2 separate regions of the Homo sapiens genome follow, and region 1 is linked to region 2. The links come from fine-mapping of genetic effects on gene expression. Tissue or cell type: monocytes. Region 2 holds a variant in brackets; the other region holds the start of a gene. All regions are shown on one strand. Distances are between the middles of the regions.

The links. PIP is the estimated chance that this variant, and not a neighbour inherited with it, causes the effect.
Region 1: DYRK2 starts here. The variant in region 2 is fine-mapped to the expression of DYRK2 in monocytes (TOPMed, PIP above 0.99).

The regions. Positions count from the first base shown.
Region 1 is chr12:67,643,771-67,651,957 of GRCh38, forward strand. It overlaps DYRK2 (dual specificity tyrosine phosphorylation regulated kinase 2), which reads left to right and starts at 4,975. Exons shown (of 3, transcript NM_006482.3): 1 at 4,975-5,412; 2 at 6,027-6,175. The coding sequence starts at 5,364. RefSeq lists silencers at 4,638-4,747, 4,848-5,147, 5,158-5,817, 5,978-6,367 and an enhancer at 7,448-7,497.
Region 2 is chr12:67,577,520-67,585,706 of GRCh38, forward strand. All of the region lies in intron 2 of LINC02442 (long intergenic non-protein coding RNA 2442), which reads right to left. Among named protein-coding and RNA genes, the nearest start is that of LINC02442, 8.4 kb to the right of the region's middle. The variant C/T (reference allele first, on the strand shown) is at 3,102.

The sequences.
Region 1 (8,187 bases), 66 kb after region 2:
ACCTGCCCAAACACCTCATATCACCAACTTTCTAGCGGTATAGAAATCTCCTCTTGATTTCCACACCAGTAGTGGCCACAGAGCCACACTCCAGAGGCAAATTCAGATACCTTGTAGCCATTTGGTTATGACGGCCATGCCTCCTACTTCTGAAAAGTTTACATTAGTAGACTTTAGGCCATAAGGTCTTCATATTCTTTTCTAGGTAGTTCTGGACCTTGGTGATGGAGACATAGAAGGTACCGCCAGTTAGTGGTGTTCTCTTTTTTTTTTTTTTTTTTTTTTTTAGATGGAGTCTTACTCTGTCTCCCAGGCTGGAGTGCAGTGGCACAATCTTGGCTCACTGCAGCCTCCACCTCCTGGGTTCAAGCAATACTCCTGCCTCAGCCTCCCAGTAGCTGGGATTACAGGTGCCCGCCACCATGCCTGGCTAATTTTTTTGAATTTTTAGTAGCAACAGGGTTTCACTATGTTGGCCAGGCTGGTCTCAAACTCTTGACCTCAAGTGATCCACCCGCCTCGGCCTCCCAAAGTGCTGGGATTACAGGCATGAGCCACTGCACCTGGCCTGGTGTTCTCTTAAAGGGAGTTAGATCCACCTTCACCAAAATGAGTCAGTTCCTTAATAATTTATCTAGCTGCTCCAAAAGCCCCTGCACCTTGTTTTCACATATCCATAGCAGATAAAGTTTAGAATATTTCTTTATTTTTACTTTTTTTGTGGAGACAGGGTCTTGCTATGTTGTCCAGGCTAGTCTCAAACTCCTGGTCCTCCCTCCTCAGCTTCTCAAAGCACTGGGATTATAGGCATGAGCCATCATGCCTGGCCAAGTTTAGGATAATTCTTAACCTGACTTGATCTATCCATAAACCTAACCCTAGGAAGATAGCAGTACCACCCCTCTGCCTGGCACCCCAAGTTTCCTCTATTCTGAATTGCTTCCCCTTCCCCTGGGACACATCATGCTTTCTTACAACTTGACGCTTCTGAACATCCTATTTCTTCCACTTGGAATGTCCTAACCTGTCTCGCCTAACTTGCAAATTCCCACGCGTCTTTAAAACCTCCACTGAAGCACAGCCCCTGCCAGACACCACTTAAGTGGAGCTCGTCCCTCTCTCCTGTGTGCTATCTCTGTGACTCCTATATGCCTTCTTTACCACTCTTTTCACTTCATTAAATGTCTGGTCTCCCGTACGGAACTGTGAACTTCCTAGTAGCAGTGACCAGAGCCAGGGATTATTTAACTGTGTAGCCCCATGTCTTAGTTTGTTAGGGCTACTATAACAAAATACTATAACCTGGGTAACTGTAACAAACAGAAATTTGTTTCTCACAGTTCTGGAGGCTGGAAAGTTCAAGAGCGTGGTGCTGGCAGATTTAGTGTCTGGTGAGGGCCTGTTTCCTTGTTCATAAATGGTGCCTGCTCTCTGTGTCCCCACATGGTGGAAAAGGCTACTAACTCTCTGCAGTCACTTGATCTAACCACCTCCTAATACCATCACATTGTGGGTTAGGATTTCAAAATATAAATTTGGGGCGTACACAAACATTCAGACCATAACATTCCACCAACGGTGCCAAAAATATGTTAGGTTCTTATAGCTTATTGCTTAATTGAATAAAAGAATGAGTTCCTGGACAGGTGTGGTGACTCACGCCTGTAATCCTAGCACTTTGGGAGGCCGAGGCAGGTGGATCACTTGAGGTCAGGAGTTGGAGACCAGCCTGGCCAACGTGGTGAAACCCCGTCTCTACAAAAAATACAAAAATTAGCTAGGCGTGTTGGTGGGCACCTGTAGTCCCAGCTACTCGGGAGGCTAAGGCAGGAGAACCACTTGAACCATGAGGCAGAGGTTGCAGTGAGCTGAGATTGTGCCACTGCACTCCAGCCTGGGCAACACAGTGAAATTCTGTCTCAAAAAAACAAAAACAAAACAAAACAAGAATGAGTTCCTAATAGATTGCCAGACTGAAGTGTAGTCTACTGCATTTGATGATTCATCATGTCTCCTAGGCCTAGCACATACTAAATTCTTTGTAAATGTTTCTGGGATAAGGGGATTAAATGAGTAAATGTGTTTTGAAACCAGCAATTTTTATGTTCATTTCCAATTTTCCTTGTGATCAGTACTTTGCCCAGTGAAAAATCAACTTTCTTCCTCAAGGCTCTATTCTGAGTTCTCCTGTTTCTCTCTACTCCTGCTAGATCCTGCCTACCTCCTTGTTATCTGAATCTGGATTTTAAACATATAGAACACACAGAGTTTTTACAATGGGTGAAAACCAAAGAGCAGTCTCTTGCTAACTGAATGAAGCTTTTAAGGAGGTTCCTATTTAAAATGAAATCTGCTCTGGTGGAGTTATGAAGATTAAACATGGTAATATTTGTGAAAGTGTTTTATAAAGAGATCAAAATATGTGTAATTATATGAGATAATTGATAATGATGCATTATGATAATAAAATTTGAGGGAAATAACTCCCCAAATTTACCCACTTCACTCTCCCCAAAGCCCCAGGAGTGTGTTTGTACAGCTTTTCTATTTAACATTCACTCAGGGAGATGTCAATATTTAATAGAATATTTAACAGAATGAGGAAAATCTAAGCAATGGTTAATAGTCACTTAGAGGTCAGTAAAAATTAATATAATTTTCAAAGATGTACCATTTATAATCAAAATAGCTATGGGGTAGGTCAACTGCAATATTTCCTTATGTTAAGCCACAAAAAATATACAAAATTGAAATTATATTTGTCATGATATAAAACAATATACTACAAAAAGTTCCCTATTGTCTTTTTCTTTCTTAAAGTTAATGATTGTGATCCTTTGTCAAAAAAAAAAAAAAAAAAGAATCAGTGCTCCTTTTCCTCATGTTAAATGAGTAAATTAATATTACTAATTTGGAAATCGTAAACTATGGCTTCCAGTAACTAGCATTTATTTTATTCATGAGAAAACAGTGGCATATTTAGCTTCTACTGAAGTATTGTACGAATAACTTAAGCAAAAAGGGGTGTCATATTATATTAAAATTGATTTTTTTGTTTCATTTTTTTATTTGAACATCAGTTGTATGGAGTACTCATTTTAAAAAGGAAAATGGTATGAAAATAATTGTTTTGAAAGGAGAAAAAAGAGGTGTGAGCTTTCTTGAAAGTGTAAGGAAAGTAGTGTGATGGAAGTCATAGTGAAATCAGACTGGGAGTCAGAAAACCGGTTCTAGTGTCATCTCTGCTACTTAGTAGCCCTTTTCTTTTAGTCGATTCTAAACACTAAATATGCTTCCGCATGTGGATTTAAATGTGATGGTCGCCAGTGACAAGCATAGGGGGATATTTCTTGCTAGGGTCAGTTCAGGTCATGATTCCTCTAAAGGCATATTATTGGATTATTTTACTGTGGGTCTACTTTATTAGGAGAAGGCCCCGAAAGGGTGTTTTGTTTTGTTTTGTTTTGTTTTGTTTTGTTTGGAGGGACGTAATACTAGGGAAAATTCTTTTTGTCACAGGTTCCCTCTCCCAGTGACCCTAACTTGGAGGCCTCTTTAGGAGTCCCAGAGACTCTGAGAGGGTCACACTGTACCTTGAAACAGTTTTTGGCGTTTGTATAAAGCTGCGGATGCGCTCTGTAGGAGGTTGCTATGACAATTTGCAAACAGTAGAGTGGATGAAACTCCGCAGGAGGTGGCTCCCTTCCGACTGGAGTCTGCACTAGTTCGGGCCTGCACAGTAGGTCCAGCCAGGAGCCAGAGATACTCGGGCGGGGCAGAGCATAATGGACCCCTGGCCCCAAGAGAACTTCAGAAACTAGGCACCTCTCGAGAAGGAAGTGCATGGCATAACTCTGCCCCGTCATCCGGGATTTGTCGGGCTTTCCCACCCCACCTCCTCTCACAGTTGAAGTGGCAAAACCTGTGACCTTTGAACAGAGGCGCACTGTGTGCCACGCACGACGAGGCGCGGATGTGAGACGGGAAAGCAATTTTTTTTTGGTCTTCAAGGAAAAGAGAGGTTGTATATGGCGAATAAAAAAGGCAGGGAAATTCTCCACGTGTCTTGGAAGGGAAGGGGGAAAGAGATGTGTCGGGTGGGGTGAGAGGAATTCGAGGTGTCGCTCCCTCACCGCAGAGCTGAAAGGAAGGTGTGTCTCTCCCAGTGGCCGCGCAGGGGAAAGGCTCGGAGTTGTAAGGAAATAGGAGATGTCTCTGATGTTTATTTTTGCCTAGCAACCCACAGCCAACTGCTTCCCCAGCTGCCGTCCACACGCGCCTCTCTGCCTCCCCTTGTCCTAGCGACTGGCGAGCGGTCACTTGGTGTCAGTAAACCGGGGAGGGTGTGTGGTGGAGGTGGGAGGGCAGCCCCCTCTTTCGCCCCTGCTCAGGGTCAACGAGCTCAGCGGCCGCCCCTCCCGGGACTTGCCTCTCCGAGGTGACCCTCGCACAACTAAGTTATCTACATGATGAATTGGGGAGAGGGGAGTGGCTAAGTCGCTGGGACCAAGAATGGGGGGACGGGGAAGCAGTACTGTCTGTGAGCAGCCATTCAGTTCGAAGAGCTGAAAATGCATTTATGTTTAGGGGTGCGCATGGCAGGGGAGGGGTCTCTGCGGCGCTTTCGGCCGGAGGGCAGCAGCGGTAGGTTGAGCTGTAGGGCAGAGAAGGGGCGCCGCGGGGCCGGGGAGGGGAAAAGGTCGCCGGAGTGGAGCCGAGGGAAGCAGTGCAGATGGCCGGAGGGGGCGGAGGAGGGCGAGCGGAGGCCGCCGAGTTTTCCGGGGAGCGGAGGGGCGGCTGCGCGCAAACCGGGGGACTGAGAGGAGCCGGGCGGGAGGTTGGGTGGGGGTGGGGTGTGCGTGGCCGCGGCCGGGGGAGCCGGGGGCGGGGCCTGCGGCGGCGGAGGAGGGCGGCGGAGGGCGGCGGGGGCGGGGCCGCGCGCCGGCGCCTGTGTGTGAGTGCGCGGGGGCGCGCGCGCGCGGGCCCGGGAGAGGCTCCCGAGCCAGGCGGTCTTCGGTCCTCGCAGCGCTTCCAGCTCCCCGCGCCCCTATGTGAGGGAGACGGGGAGGCCCGCGGCGCGCAGGGGAGGGCGAGGCATGTGCACGGGCCGGAGGGTGCTGCAGCCGCCCGAGGAAGAGGAGGACGGCGGCGAGGAGGAGAGCGGGGGGCTCGCGGCGGCGGGCCCCGGCCGAGGGGATGCAGTGGACTGTGTGTGTCTGGCTGTAGCAGACGCGAGGCGGCGACGAGGCGCCGGGGACCCGCGCGAGGGGCGGCCGGGAGGCGGCGGCGGCGGCCGCCAGAAGTAGCAGCAGGACCGGCGGCGGCGACGGCAGCCCTGAAATGCATTTTCCTCTCCAGCGGCCATGTTAACCAGGAAACCTTCGGCCGCCGCTCCCGCCGCCTACCCGACCGGTAAGGAGGCCGTGCCGCCGCGCCGCATCCCCGGACCCCCGCCGGCCCTGGGCAGCCCCTGTGGCGCGGGCGGCCGCTGCCTGCGGGACCTCGAACAAAGTCGGCGGCGCGGCGCGGGGGAGCCCCCGGGCGGACGACGCGCCCCGGGCTCCATGCAGGGTTGTGCGCGGCCCCGAAGGCCCCTCCGCGGGGAGCCCTCGGCCCGAAGAGGCTTCTGCCTGCCGGGGGCCCGGGCGGGGACCGTCCAGGCCTGCCGCCCCGCCCTGCGCTGCCCGGGGCTTGGCGTGGCCGTGGCTCCCTGCTCAGCTGTCCAAACCCACCTCCCGGCTGCTGGCCGTCTGCAACGTGGGCCGCCTAGCCCCGGCGCGGCCCGGCTCCCCCGCCGGGTCGCGAACTCGCGCGCCAGGGCCCCACTTAACTTTGCAGCTGCCCGCGCCCCGCCCGTGGGTGTGCGCTGGGGAGCCGTGACCCGAACGCCCGTTTTTACTGCCCCGGTCTCTTCCTCCGTCTTTCTTTGGAAGAGGGTTGTCGCTGCCCAGCGGGGTTGGAGGGGGGGTCTGGGTGACTTTCTCCCCCCTGACCCTCTTTTGTCTCCTCCCGCACGTGGCTTCCAGGCCGAGGTGGGGACAGCGCCGTTCGTCAGCTTCAGGCTTCCCCGGGGCTCGGTGCAGGGGCCACCCGGAGCGGAGTGGGGACTGGCCCGCCCTCCCCCATCGCCCTGCCGCCTCTCCGGGCCAGCAACGCTGCCGCCGCAGCCCACACGGTGAGACCCAGCCCGCGGGCGGCCCGGGCGGTGGGGGCGGGAGGGGCCCCAGGCCGAAGCACCCGGACTTGGAGGGGTCTGACGCCGGGAGAAGAGGGGTCGAGATACAAGCAGCCCCACGCCTCGGGCCGATGGTCTCTCGTCGACGCCGCCCTGGTTAAGTTGGGCGAGCCCAAAGCTGCAGCCACAAAGGAAGATTCGTGGCGTGGGCCCCTTACTTCCCCTCCAGAGCTCGCCCACCCATGACCTCCTCTTCCTAGGAACTTCCTCCTTGCTGCTTTCCTTCTTTCCTCATTTTTCGTCCTTGCATCCCAGAGTTCCCTTCCCTGACCCGGTAAACATCTCTGTCCTTCCCCCACCTCCCCGTGGGTAGTGGGTATTTATAGAAACAGATACGTGTTAGGGGACAGCCAGACCGGCCTGCCCGGAAAATCGATCCCCCAAAGAGCCTCCCAGGCCTGGCTCCAGCCAGCAGGGAGCATCGCCAATTGTCCCCCGCGTGTGTAAGCATGTTTTATGAGTGCTACAGGTTTGAGCACAGCAGAAATTGTAATCAACATTAACAAAAATAAGGGCCGCCGCAGCAGTCAAAACAAGCCACCCCTGTAGGATTCTGCAGTTGGACATTATTCAAAAGGAAAGGGCAAGCGTTGCTTTGGAGGTGGGAAAGAAAAAGCACCTAACAGGTGCTGTGGTCTCTGGGAGGGGAGAGGCCAGCGTGGGACTGGTTGCTGGTGGCTGCGGAGACTGGCAAGCTGGATTCGACTAAAGCATGTACCTTTTCTCAGCTCCCAGGGATCACCCTTGGATGGTGATGGCCAGCCTGGAGGAGGTCTGCACTTGGAGGAGGTGATGGTTTGGAGGTCTTTTTTTCCCAATTGGATTTTCCACAGGAACAGCCTAAGATGGTTCTGTGTGAGGGAGGCTTGCTAGGGATTGGTTTTATTTGCTAAGTGAAAGTTGAGTTCTTGAAGAAAAGGCCATCTCCGGTCTACAGGGGAGTAGCTCTGGGGACATATGTTATGGGGAAACTTGTTTGTCAGAGAACTGTGAGGGGATGTCTAGACTGTAGTTGCACCTGTTAGACTTGGAGAGATGTGTGCAAGTTTCGTAGGAAAATGTTTTGTTGCTGTTACTATCTTCCCCCTCCCTCTGTCTGTCTCTCTATCCTGACACATCTGGTCCCAGGGGCTGGGAATTCATTGCACAGAGGTTAACTAACCTGTGTTGGACTGTGGATGGTATAGTAGGATGGATGATTCTGTATATTACTGTTAAGTGTTCTTGTCACAGTGATATTTAAGGGACTGCCATTGATTTTAGGGGTTTGGATTTTTTTGTTTGGGATCATCTGACAATTTGGAAAATATAATACCCAGTTTTTTGCTATGTGTTGATGTAATCACATGACATGGTGTGAGCTGGAAAAAGAACTATTTGGTTTGCATGTGGATTCCAATTTTGTAAGGATGGGCTTTGCTTGATCAGAGCCTCTTTGCAATTGAAATACATGTAATGAAAGTAGATGAAACGACAAGTCTCCACTGGAGGGAGAGCCTGTGGTGCACCAGAAAAGGAAGGATGCGAATGTGCTTCTCAGTACTCCTCATAATGGAGGCCTGTATTTTGCTGTGGCATATGCCAGATTTACTTGTTTTTAACGTGTGTGTAAACTTCGGTATGCTGTTAATTATTAGATGCTTGACTTTGAAGGTGTGAATTTGGGTTTCGATGGTGGTTTAGTTTTGATTTTATTTCTATAACATAGCAGATTTCATAGTACAGGAAAGGTTACAAGGACCACAGAGTTTATCTGGTTCTATTCTTTCAATTTATAGATGAGGAAACAGACTCAGACAAGGTAACTGGTTTCATCAAGATTCCCCAGCCAGTTCATATCAAGGCCAGAGTGAAAGCCTACATCCTCCTGCATCTAGTTTTAATATACTGATGGAGACTGCTAATTCTAGGAAATTGTACTAGCCTCATTATAAATGCAAGAACCTTTGTAG
Region 2 (8,187 bases):
TGATTTTACTTCTTGGAAGTTGATAGTTGGGAGGAATGGTATATTTTTCAATTCTGTTGCTATTATTAAATTGCTCTTAAAAAGACAGCAACATGTCACATTTCTACCAGAAATAGTGGAGAGTATACTTTTTCTTGCAACTCTGCAAGTAATAGGTATTCTCATTTCATTTTTGTGTCTGATGGGTTCAAGGAGATGTCAACTTTTAGTAAGCGGTGGTAACAGTCTATCTAGTGTAACTGACTGGCCAGAGTAGCAGAGTGAGAGGTGGTAGGAGGGTTATTGTTGAAATAACCAATATCCTGTGCTGTGTACTGTAAGAGAAGAAAAGAGAAGAGAAGAGGATGGGGTTTTCTGTAAAGGTTCTAGTAGAACAGCTGACCAAGCTTCCTAATGTGTTGAAGATTGTGGTCCAGAGACTTTTGGAAATATAATAAATGTCCACTTTAGGCAATTGTATTGATTAATGTCAGGTGCAGGGTGCAGCTAAAAGTAACAGAGACAATAACAGTACAAAAAATAATATCTTACGTGATAGTCTGGAGGTAGCAATTCAGGATTTCAGGGTTGGTAAGGCCCTGCCCAGTGTCAGCCTTTTCTATCTGTTGAACTGAAATTCGTGGCTTCAGTTCCCAATGTCACCTCATAATCAAGTATGGCTGCTGGAGCTCCAGCAATTACATCTACATCAAGTGGAAAAAGGAAGAAATTGAAGAAGAAGAACACATTCCTTCCCTTTAAGGAAATTCCTAGAAACTGTGCACACCAATTCTGCTTATAGCTCATCAGCAAGACCAGGAAATGTCTATTCCGGATGGCCAGCTAAAAATCGAGAGTTCTTTTTCCAGGTTGACTGAGAGAAGTAGAATGTATAATGGAGGAAATTAGAAATTTCTGCCACAGCTATCACTGTCTCAAGTAGAAATTGTCTAAGAAAAGGCTTAACTACAATGATGATGGCAAGTTCCTGGGTTTGGGTTATTAAACACAGCCTTAGATAGGAACTGATTATCTTGAACTAAATAGACATGATTGGGTTCATTTCTACAAACTTCCTCACTTGTGGTTCTCAACTAGCATTGATTTCACCCCCCAAGAGACATTTAGCAATTTGAGACATTTTAGTTGGTCCCAATTGGGAGATGGTGGATGCCACTGGCATTAATGGGTAAAGACTAAACATCCTACAATACACAGGACATTCACACAACAAAACTTATCTAGTCCAAAAATGTCATTAGTGCTGAGGTTGGTAAACCTTTCCATAAGCAATTCATAAAGGCTTTAGTCAAATTTCAGGGTCTAAGCAGAGAGCTGTGTGCATTGCCAATTTTGAGCGATTAAAATAATTACATTTCATATTACTCTGGCTTCATTTGGGCCATGGAATTCCTCATTTGATCCACTGGGTGAGAAATTAAGTAATTATTTCCCCAAAACACATGATCTCTTTTTATGTAGACTTTTTATGTTGCTATGTGGCAGTGTGACCTATCGTTATGATGTTAGTACGATCATTTCAGAATCATTTTCAACCCTCTAGACCAACCTACTTTTCTATCCTTCCTGAGATGGGTGATGTTTTCCTCTTTCATATTTCCTGTTTCTCACTGCACTTACCACATTGCACAATAATCACATGTTGACACGTCTGAATCCCCTACTGGATCACAAGCTCCTTTAAATCAGGGACAATATTTTATTTATTTTTGTATTTCTAGTGCCCAGTGCAGAGTATGCAACTTAGCAGGAGCTCATAAATACACATTGAACTGAACTGAGCTCCTGTTTATCCTTGGGCCTCTCTTCATTCCAGGCCTGCTTGGATATCTTCTGGTTTGGCACTCACAGCAAAGAACCTATCACTAAAATGCTTCCCATTCTGGCACTTCATCTAAAATCCAGAGGATGGGAAAATTCAGAGAACAGGAACTAAGGTGTTAATAATTTAGTTTCTCCTGTGCCCTCTCTGAGTCAGCTGCCTCTCTGTGGTTTACATTTTCTCCCAACCACATCCAGCTTTCAAATATAAGTATCAACTAAAAACTCATTGAGGTGGTTTTTGATGTAGGAAACAGAAATTGAGTGTGTTCCATTTTAAAATTTTCTTGAGGGAAAGATGATACCACCTGGCCTGAAGTTGGCAGGTTGGTTCCAAGGAGGTTGAGGAACAAAGGTGGAGGAGGTAGGAAGCCATAGCAGTGAAAATGTTTGCAGGCCCAGGAGCAGGATGAGAATTTACTGCAAACTGGCGGGTGGTGTCAATTCTCTATTTTGGTTGGTGGAAGAGGTTAGCTATCATGAGAGTCCACAGGCCTATCCACACATCCTTCAGCAGGCTTCTATTGAAGGATTCTTCTGCCTGGAGATAGTTAAGGTGGTTTCTCTTTCACTAAGAACATATCATATCCAACAGAATCCAGCACATTCTAGTTAGAGATTTTCTTGAGACCAATTTATATAACCTAACAACTATTAGGTAGAAAAGGATCTTCTCACAGCACCATGAATAGAGACAGCTTTTTCTGACCACTCATCCATCCTCATGTTTTTTTGGGGGGGTGGGGCAGGGGGGTGATTTGGGGGTTATGGTTTATTTAATGAGATGCACGGCCAATAATCTTTTAAAAATATCAAGAATACAATATCTTCTGTACTGCTGTGATGCCTCTGTTGAGACTTACTGAATGGCCATGCATGGAACTTGAATTGACCAAGACCATTTATTCATTCATACATTCAGTCATGCATACATGCATTTAATTTATATTTATTGAGCTTTTACTAGGAGCTAGATGTTCATGAAGATTGTAAGACACTTTTACTAGGAGTTAGATGTTCATGAAGATTGCAAGACACAGAGCATGGTTCTGTCCTGATACAGTCTAGGCAAGATAAAGATAAAAGGTGGGATGGTGATAAGAACAATGGTGACTAAGAGCTTAAGAAAATGGTACAGAGTCAGAGTGTCAGTGAGTTCAGAAGAGTAAGCAGTTCTTCAACATAGACTCCAGAGGTTGGGAAAAACTTGATGAGAAGTTGAAAACTGAGCTGAGTCTTGCAGGGTGGGTAGGATCTGGACGTGCCTTAGGGCTCTACAC[C/T]TGTGGTTCTTTCTTCATAGAATGCTCTAATGCTTGGATCAATCCTCTTAATTTTTTATATCTCAGATTAAAAGTAATTCCCTCAGAGAAGGCTTCCATGACCCACTGGATTAGGTAACATGCCACCTTTACGTGTCATCATAAATGTACTTCTGTGTAGCACTTATCAAAACTAGAGCTTAAAGCTCCTGAAGGAGGGACTATGTTTATCTTGTTCACCTTTGAATCCCCAGAACCTATTAAAGTTTTTGAAACTGAGTAGGTACACCATAAATATTTGTCCAAATAATAAATGAATAAGTAGGCGTAGAGAAACGGTGGGTGTTCCTGAGTAGTATGAGCGGGTGTAGACATGAGTGTGTGCATGGCAGGCTGTGAGGTTCTGTGTAGATTGCATAGTATACCTGTGTGTGGAGCAGTGGAACATGATTGTGAGGGTGGGTTGACTGTCTAATATCAGGGAAAGAGGTTAGTCTTTTTCTATTGGTCATGAAGCTGTGGAAACAACATACTGAAATTGATTATTTTGAAAATTAATCTGTTTATATTACAAGAGTGAATTTGATGAGGAAAGGATTTGTAGAGCTTTGCATCCTTAATAACTAACAGAAACAGGGCTGCCTTTCAAGAATCTGGAGTAGGAGCTAGTTTATTAAACAGTGACTTAATATTTTCAAACTAGAGACAATAAGGGTCAAATCCCTACCTCATAGAGACATGGAAAATGGAAGCTCCTCGTTCCTATGATAGGTTGTGTAACCCCCATGCAGGTTTATTCTGTGAGGATGCTAAATATACCAATCAGACTGCTCCTTCATTTAGGAAATTGCACAATGAAGCTTTAAAGATTAAAATTTAATTCCTTCCATGAGTTCATCTGAATTGAAATGTCTTTTGAAAACCCAGATTGCAATATCCTCTCCCACTACTCCTCCTGACCTTTCCCTTCCTTGATTCCATTCCTCTTTAATTTCCTGAGCTCTGGCTCATATGTGGAGAATTTATTTCATTCTACAACCTCCCAAGCATTTACTCATAAAAGGATGTCCTAGAGGCAGAATGGAGCCATGTAATCATGAACACTGATTATGTGGCTTCCACCATCCTGTGGGCTCTTCACTCTCCCCTTCATTAGACCTTCAATTAGACTATAAACTCCTTGAGGACAGGGTCCAATCATAATTCACCCTTGCATCCACTTATCATTACCTGCATTTTGTGGAGATAGCTCTTTGGTATGTTTGTTGAATGATTTGAGTCATTCAACAAACGACTCAAGAATGGGTCAGAAGTTTAGATGCAGTTTGCTGGCTCTCATCTGGGAATGAGAGAAAGTCTCATACAGTCCCTCTAGAACTAGGACTTTTCTGGAATCAGAGTAGAATCAGCCCCACTAATTCTGGTGGGTTCTGGTTTCACTTTAGCCAGACTTGGCTACCTGTCCTTTTAGTTATCTGACCAATTTAGTTATGCTACTAGGTCCAGGCTTCTTACTTGGGAGGTGGCCAGGCACATGCTAATGATTCCAAGTCAGAGTTGCAGTAGAGTTGAGAGGGATAAGAAATAAAAATGTCCCATTCTGTGACTGGAAAGTAATCTACTAGATCTATTAAGATTCCTGAAAATGACTCTCTAACATTATGGTATGTGTGGAATTGCTCACACATATGTGTATTACACACATGTAATAAACACGTGAATGAAGTTTGCTGTTCGTTTCACCCCATCTTGTAAATACAATTCAGGCAAATGGAAGAGTTGGCAGAGCAGTGGAAAAGGCATTAGAATCAGATTCTATCTTCCCAATAATTTAATAAGACTCAGCCTTCTCACCCATAAAATAAGGAGTTGGAATACAACAGCTCTTTAGAGCACTTCTAGCTCTCAAATTCCATTATTCATCAGCCTGCCAGAAAATACATCTTCCCTTGCCAAATATGGACTCAACACCCCACCTCTTCCAGAAGTTCCCCAGATACCCCTACACACCTCCCTGGTTTCAGCCTCCTACTTCTCCAGCCTTCTCCAAGGCATTCTTCTCTCCCACTGCTAGCCCACACCTAAAAAAATGACTTCTTTTTATCAGCTCTTTTCTCTTTGCTTCCTCTTTCTGCATTCAAACCAGATTCGTCTCCAATATTGTTTGTTCACTGCCTAATGAAGATCAGGTCTGCAGTATGATTCTCATGGGTCCCAGGCACTTTTGCCTTCATGGGCCCCTTACTCCATTAAAAAATATTAAAACTGTTATTTTACAACTGTGTTAGTATAAAGTTGATTATTTTAATACTTTATATTAAAACATTTTCTGCAGCCTCAAGATTGTTGTGTGTGTGTGCGTGTTGTGTGTGTGTTTACTACTACGCCTAATGGATGGGTTGGCTCTGGAGGAAATAAGTAATCAATTACAGTATAGTATGGTAATTATACACATGTCCTATGAATAAGCAATAGACCTACACCCAAGAAAATTAACATTTTTTCTTCAGTGGAGAGAAGGAAAGGTCAAAAACAATTCAGGAAGTTAGAAATGGTAGATCAGGGTTCAGGAAAATCCCCCTTGACTGTGCTGCTCTACTATGACCCTGAAAGTCCTCCATTTGGCAGGCAGCAGCCTACCTAGTCTCTGTGCCATCATTCACTCATTGAACATCGTATATGTTGCAGGCATTGTTCAGGTGCTTGGGATACATCTGCAACTAACACAAACAAGGTTTCTTCTTTTAACCTCCCTGTAATGTGAATCTGAATATGAAGACGTAGCTTCTTGAAATGTATTATTTCCTGCTTTATGCAGTGGGAGCAAGGGGCTGATGCATTTCCCAGTGGCTTGGGGGTAAGGAGACGGCAGCACTCAGAGCTCCCTGGCTATGCTCATTAGGGAAGGCTCTGCCTGAGGAGTCCCTTAGTGGCAGTTCATATGATTACTAAAGATTATCTTTCTGAATCAAGATTGCTCTTCTGAAGCATGTTTGGGGGGAGTTCCTTGCAGGTGCTTTATTTCTCTAGGAGTTTCATGTTAAATATATTTGATATTGATGTAACTATTGCAACATAAATATTTTGCCTTAAAATAACAACCCTGGTTCCTTTTACATTTTTATAAAAAAAAAAAAGGATGACCCGATTTTATTTTCAAGGTAACAGGTGGAGGCTTCCAAATTTTCTACATGGGAGAAAGAAAAAGAACACCAAATGTTCTGTGCTTGCAGGAAAAACTCAAAGCATAGCTAATTCAAGCAATACCATTTGTTAATTTATCACAAGTGGGAGATACAAAGAGGACTTTTGAAATGAAGTCTAATAATTCCATATTAGGTGTGGTCCATGGTGCTGGCCATTTTTTACAGGTGAATTTTGTTCTTGTTCTTTGAAACTTGGTGGCTATTGAAAAGACTTTAGTGTTATTTTCCTATTAATTTAGACTCTAGGCTGCCTAATCTTATTGTTTCCAAAGTTGTAGAGGAAATTGTTGGCTCCCACTGGGAAAGAAAGGAAGACATTAGACGCTATCTTATAAAGGGAGCTGCATCTTCTTTTGAGATTCATGCATAGAAATCAATTGGGTAGAGAGCAATTGCACGGGATGCTAACAATGGTAGAGATGTTACCAGTCATCATTCTAAGTCTTCACTGTCTCCAAGCCTACTATGGTCCATACACACTATTTTTTCTCACTGTATTCTACATGCTGAGTGGACTGATCAAATTCAAGGAATAAACAGTCATTATTTATAGGGAACTTTTGGGATGGACTCTTATAGGACATAGGGTAATTCTTTGACCCCCTGCCCCCCCGCACAAAAATCTACCTAAATAAATCTAAGTATCTTTTGTTTATAGGAAGATTCTTATGAACAGCAAGCAGACTTTTAAAAACAGAAAAATTTCACTGTAGTGTGGATGCTTTGGGGCTTATACCATGAAATAATAAAGTCTGTATAATGTACTCTTAATTATGAGTTCATTTCTATGACTTTTTATTTCTCTCTCACTTCTTATTTTATATAAGGTGATTAATTATAGATTGACAATGAAAGAAACACAGACTTACATACCCACGGATTAAAGAAATCAGTCATTACATTTAATGGTGAGCCTAACAATGAGAGATGTGCTTCCCTTACGGTGTTTCTCGTTCAGGGTTAGTGTTAACTAGAATCCTGAGGGAAATTTGGCAAGGAGAATACTATTGAATTAAAACTTCGCTGAGTCTTAGTCCATTGAGCTTAGGAGCAAGAAAGAAAACCACATTGGTCAGTGTGGAGAGGTGTTAATAAAAGCATCCTTTGCTGTTTATCATTTCGTGGCTGACAGGCCTCCAATTGCGGGCGCCTAGAGCCTTAGCCGTGGCCCCCAGGTCACAGGAGCATGCTGTGATCCAAGAGACGAGGCTGAGCAGCCTTCATGTGGCAAATGCAGCAGGGCAGAGGCAACAGGGAACATTAAATGCATTTGCCATTGGGTAGGCAGCGTGAAGAGAGCTTTCATGAAGGTTTTAAAGGAGCTGGCAAAAAAAAAAAAAAAAATCACAGCTCCTCACAGACTTCCTCTCTGAGGAGATATCATGAAATAGATAAGGAGCCTCATTTGCAATAATTAGAGGCATAGTGTCCTCTATACATAAATGTTTTAGATTTCAGCCATGTAATGAGTTTGTTGTGAATATCAAGACTGAAGGAATGGGAGTGAATGGCTGCTCTGAATCCTGACACCAAAAAGATCTCAAAAGACAGTATAAGTGGTTCTGACAAGAAGACGGATTTCCAGGCCTTTTGAAAACCACATGAAATGAAGAAGAAAAAACCCATCCAAAGCATCACATTTTACAAACCACCACATGTGATGAGAGACATAAATGCAGCAAAATAACATAGGTACAAATGTGGACACAGAGTCCAATCTAGGTCCAGGTGATGCACAGTTTCGTTAGAGAGAAACTATCTAAGATACCTTGTCTTCTCCCCATGGCTTTCCCTGTGGAAAGTCTAAGAATTGTGACAAAGAAGTCTTTGCTTCTTTGGCTTTTTATGGAAATACAACTGAATTTGATTCAAGAAGTCGAATCTTATCTTCAAAGTTCTGA